Linked DNA regions of Homo sapiens: region 2 is linked to region 1. The links come from fine-mapping of genetic effects on gene expression. Tissue or cell type: lung. Region 1 holds a variant in brackets; the other region holds the start of a gene. All regions are shown on one strand. Distances are between the middles of the regions.

Region 1 (2,690 bases):
ATAAGGAAAGAATTTTTATTTTTGTTTTTTTAATGAAGAAACCAAAGTTCACAGAAGTTATATGATTGGCTCAAAGTACACACTTAAAAGAGAATTTTGAGAAATTGTCCTTGGGAGAAATGACCTTAGACATAATAACATGCTTCAGTAATATCCCTCAGAGAAAGATTTCCATTCCTCCTTTTGTACTTTTCAATTTAGTTAATGATTGGGCTCTGAGGTTGTCGTAAGAATGTGTGAGAAGAACTTCTATAGTTCCACTATTCTTTTGCCAGGCTTTATCCATTTCAGACTGATGGGAGTACAACCTATTTTAAATGTGATCTAGATGGAAAACTTAACAGTTTCTCCTTGGATGGACCATTCCAATGTCAAACTTTGCTGACTTACAGGCCTCTAAAACAATTTTCCTTTGAATAAAAACAGGGGGCAGATTATTTCCTAAGTGACACAGAAATCAAGAGCCTGAGCATTTGTTTCAGACAGAACTGGATTCAAATTTCACCTTTGTCCTTTGCTATTCATTAGCTGTGTAACCTTCGAACGGTTACTGAACATCTTTAAACCAGGAACTGTAATAACTACTCCTAAGTTTACTCTGAATATTAAATTAGGTTCATATTTGTAAAACACTTTTCAGCACTTGGCTCAGTGTAAGTGACAAAAAAGTGGCCGCAAATGCATATGAACCACATGCTCGTTGAACAGATTTTATATTTATTACTGCAATAATGAAACAAAAGAAACACTGCTGAAATGATCACCAAACAGTTGTATGCAGTTACAACATATAATAATCTCTGAATAGTGATGCCACAGTTATTCTCTTTTCATATTCCTTTTCCTTTTTGCTTCCAGGATGTAACATTGTTCTAATCTTTAATTTGCCAGAGAATTTAAGTGATCTGAAGAAAATACACAGTATCTGCTTCTGTTTCTCTCTGTCATTAAATCTGGATTGCAAGAAAAATTATTTATCCAGGTGTCCTCTTTTGGTTGTTTCCTTGATTTACATAAAAATGATCTCCTATCCTTTTCCCTCTTTTCCCCCAAATGAGGAGGACAATGAAGATCTGAAGTGCCAGCTGCAGTTTGTTAAGGAAGAAGCCGCTTTGATGAGAAAGAAAATGGCCAAGATTGATAAAGAAAAGGACAGATTTGAACACGAGCTCCAGAAGTACAGATCCTTTTATGGGGATCTGGACAGTCCTTTGCCCAAAGGAGAAGCCGGAGGCCCTCCCAGCACTAGGGAGGCCGAGCTCAAGCTACGGCTAAGGCTGGTGGAGGAAGAAGCCAA[C/T]ATCCTGGGCAGGAAAATCGTCGAACTGGAGGTGGAGAACAGAGGCCTGAAGGCGGAACTGGACGACCTTAGGGGCGATGACTTCAACGGCTCGGCCAACCCGCTCATGAGGGAGCAGAGCGAATCCCTGTCGGAGCTGCGGCAGCACCTGCAGCTGGTGGAAGACGAGACGGAGCTGCTGCGGAGGAACGTGGCCGACCTGGAGGAGCAGAACAAGCGCATCACGGCGGAGCTCAACAAGTACAAGTACAAGTCCGGCGGCCACGACAGCGCGCGGCACCACGACAACGCCAAGACCGAGGCCCTGCAGGAGGAGCTGAAGGCGGCGCGCCTGCAGATCAACGAGCTCAGCGGCAAGGTCATGCAGCTGCAGTACGAGAACCGCGTGCTTATGTCCAACATGCAGCGCTACGACCTGGCCTCGCACCTGGGCATCCGCGGCAGCCCCCGCGACAGCGACGCCGAGAGCGACGCGGGCAAGAAGGAGAGCGACGACGACTCGCGGCCTCCGCACCGCAAGCGCGAAGGGCCCATCGGCGGCGAGAGCGACTCGGAGGAGGTGCGCAACATCCGCTGCCTCACGCCCACTCGCTCCTTCTACCCGGCGCCCGGGCCCTGGCCCAAGAGCTTCTCCGATCGGCAGCAGATGAAGGACATCCGCTCGGAGGCCGAGCGCCTGGGCAAGACCATCGACCGGCTCATCGCCGACACGAGCACCATCATCACCGAGGCGCGCATCTACGTGGCCAACGGGGACCTGTTCGGACTCATGGACGAGGAGGACGACGGCAGCCGCATCCGGGAGCACGAGCTGCTCTACCGCATCAACGCTCAGATGAAGGCCTTCCGCAAGGAGCTGCAGACCTTCATCGACCGCCTCGAGGTGCCCAAGTCTGCGGACGACCGCGGCGCCGAGGAGCCCATTTCCGTGAGTCAGGTACAGTTCTGCCTATTGCGAGCCACGGCGGTGGCCAGGCTGGCCCGTGGAGCCGCGTCCCTGGGGGGCGTCTCGGCGCCCGGACTGCCGCGCCCCGCTTGAGGGAAGCCCCCGCTCAGGGCCGCGCTGGGGCCTGAAACCCCCGGCCTCGGCCCACCAGTTCTTCCACACTGTCCTTCTGCAGGGCTGAGGTTTTTGTGACTCCATCACATAGTCACCATTTCTTCCTCTGTTTTGTTTAAAAGGAAAACTGAACACCATTACCCTCAATTGTTGTGGAAAGAGTAACGGATTTTGAGGCACGTTATTATTTTAGAAGGTCAATATTTTTCTCTGTTACTCTGCTAGCAGATGAACTGCAAGATGGTCCTGGATAGGAATATTTAACTGCTGATATGTGGTTTTTGAGCCAAGATCCATATTGAGTTTAGGATTTAAAAAAAATGACTAGACTAG
Region 2 (2,690 bases), 43 kb before region 1:
GATACCGCTTTCGGAAAAAAAATCAAAACATAGATGCCTGAGCAGAGTAAAAATTCTTAGAGAAGCAGGACTATGCATATTCTGTGTCTTTAGACTGTGTTTACAGTATCAATATTTTATTGGTAAAGATTGAGCTGAAAAATATTTGTATCTACTTTATCCATTTTGATTGGATGAGACATGTGCATCTTGATATTTCTTGAGGATATTACAGCTCAAGTTTGGGTACATAATAAGAAATTGCCTAATATAAATTCAAACCAACTTGTGATTACATTTTCACTTGCTTTTTTTTTTTTCCTTTATTTTTGGTATGCTAGTCGAGGTGTGGGCTTTTTATTATAAATGTCACAGATGTCACTTTTCCTGTTCCCAAAGGTATTTGAAAGAAAATAAGGAAATTATCTCAGTTTTCACCAGTATGCTTGAGTGTCCCCAGCACAGGGACAATTTCTTGATTCAGCTTTGCATCCCAGTACCTTGGACAGTGCCAGGCTCAAAATTGGCTTTTAATACCTATTTTGGAACATGAATGATTTTATCGTGATATCATATTTGTTTTATGTGTCTCTAAAGATAAGAATAACCAGAGCTTGAGCATGTTTTTATTTTGCTGTAATAATTGCTTTTATGCAAACTACTCCTAAATTGTTTTTATTTCACTTTTAATGCAAGATCAACACTTGGAAAATTGAATCTCTTGAGCCAAAATTCATGTTGGCACAAAAAGCTATTATTATTTCAAGATATCTTCTTCCTTTTACTTACAAAATCACCATATAAATGTAAGACAAATTAAATTTTAAAATGCCCTTTCAAAAGCAGTACTTACTTTTATTCTCATACTCAAGCTCACAAAGGAATTCTTAGAGGTAGAAGGGAGGCTCCCATGCCCCCCGCCCACCACTGAAAGAAGAAACTGAAAAGAAAAAGAGAAAATTCCACTTAATTTTTAAAAATATTATTACTGTGAAACAGTATGGGTTAGTGTAAATTGTAAAGACATGTATATTCTGAACTCCTCTTTTTAAATGAATTCCCTTTTAGGCTGATATAATGTATTCTTCCTGGTTTCTGTTATTGTTCGCATGCACTACTATAAAGATTATGGATCCCAGCAATTACTCATTTTCACGGTAGAAACCGGCACTCAGTAGAAAACAGGAAAACGTACTGAAGGCAAACCGTTCTGTAAAGGATCTCTGTGGGCCGATATTTATTTCGGTTTGCACTAAATTAGTCGTGGCTTCGCAAGAACCCTTTGTCTGTGGGACGGTGGGTCCCATCATGGCAACCATTATCTATTCGTGGAAACGACATCTGATGACTCCGCCCGGGCTGGGGGTGGGGAGGGAGCACCGCGTGTAGAGCTCGACTGAGAATTAAAGTGAGTGAACAAAGAGAACTCCCAGCAGCCGCCAGCCAGCTGCATCAGGAGATGTTAGTCACGCCCGGAAGGCTGTTCTAGTCCGCCTCCTTGGAAAAGAAGCTCAAGTAAATAATTGATGGAGAATGACCGAACCCAGGACAAAGCTTTGCAGGAAACCAGTGCATCCGTGTTCGAGCGGTTTTGGGATCCTCTGCCAAGTACGGGATAAGAGAATAGAGCAAGGAGTTTGAGCGCTGCTGCCAATCTTCCATCTCGGGCGTGGCTCTGGCCTTTTTGTCTCTTTATCCCGCCACTCCCCACCCCCGTCCCCCGTCCCCCTCCCCGCCTTCTTCTCTTTCCTCTTGAAAGTAACCTCTCTTTGGTTACTTCTACCCTATCGTCCCTTGCAATCCCGCCTTCTCTCCTGCCCAGTTCGGTGAGGTCAGCTCATGAACATCTCTGCACTTCCTGGGGAGCGTCTGGCCCAGCTTGGTACCTCGCGTGTTAGCCTGCTGAGAGCTGCAGCTCCAGCCCAGCCGCGGACCGCCGGGAAGTCACCCGCTCTGGGGGCAGCTGAATCTTGACGTTACCGCCATTGTTTGGAGAAATCGAGTGGGTGTGGAACTGCGGCGAGCGAGCCCAAAGTCATGCTCAGCCGGAAAGTCGCATACAATAATATGAAGTTGAACTTTCCTCGGCGCAGAAAGGCACAATAATAAACCCTGAGATCCCCGGAATATCAGAAGGAAAGTGCTGTTGATTTGTTCAGCTACTTGGAAACCTCGCCTCTGCTGAGAAGTGAGCAAGTTCTGGATTTCTAAAGGGTTGGGGATGAATGATGGGGTGGGTTAGCAGGCGGATAAAACTTGAGATTAAAAGTGTTGGTCTAAGCCGTGCAGGGGTTGGTTGGGTGATAATTTTCACCGGGAAAGCCTTGAAGAGATGCAGCATCTTGTCACTTTGTGGGAACCACGTGACAGCAGCCGGATACCTTTGATTGTGGAGCCCAGTTACTGGAACACAAGCTTTCGCCTGGGTTAATGCTGTCTGAGGGCTGAGTTTAAACATTGGCTTCTCAGCTCTGGAATTATTCTGCCTGATTAAAAACAAAAATAAGTTTGCATTGGCAATATAAGTTAGTTAGATAGCCCATGTTAGTGCCACCCATGATGATAAACTAGGCCAGACATTCTAGTAGTATCGCGACTGGGAGAGAAGATGTAGAAAACAAGTTGGTGGGCAATTTTCCCCCGATGTCTTCTTTGTTCACCTTTATATTTCAAAGTGAGTTGGAAGGAGATGCCAGAAACAGAAAGGGAGG

The links. PIP is the estimated chance that this variant, and not a neighbour inherited with it, causes the effect.
Region 2: it holds the start of MTCL3, and the variant in region 1 is the best candidate, but not a certain one, in a credible set for the expression of MTCL3 in lung (TOPMed, PIP 0.79).

The regions. Positions count from the first base shown.
Region 1 is chr6:127,474,837-127,477,526 of GRCh38, reverse strand. It overlaps MTCL3 (MTCL family member 3), which reads left to right. Exons shown (of 7, transcript NM_001400265.1): 6 at 1,059-2,234. It overlaps SOGA3-KIAA0408 (SOGA3-KIAA0408 readthrough), which reads left to right. Exons shown (of 13, transcript NR_174482.1): 6 at 1,059-2,234. Among named protein-coding and RNA genes, the nearest start is that of KIAA0408, 17 kb to the right of the region's middle. The variant C/T (reference allele first, on the strand shown) is at 1,298.
Region 2 is chr6:127,518,056-127,520,745 of GRCh38, reverse strand. It overlaps MTCL3 (MTCL family member 3), which reads left to right and starts at 1,411. Exons shown (of 7, transcript NM_001400265.1): 1 at 1,411-2,167. SOGA3-KIAA0408 (SOGA3-KIAA0408 readthrough) reads left to right here and starts at 1,411. Exons shown (of 13, transcript NR_174482.1): 1 at 1,411-2,167.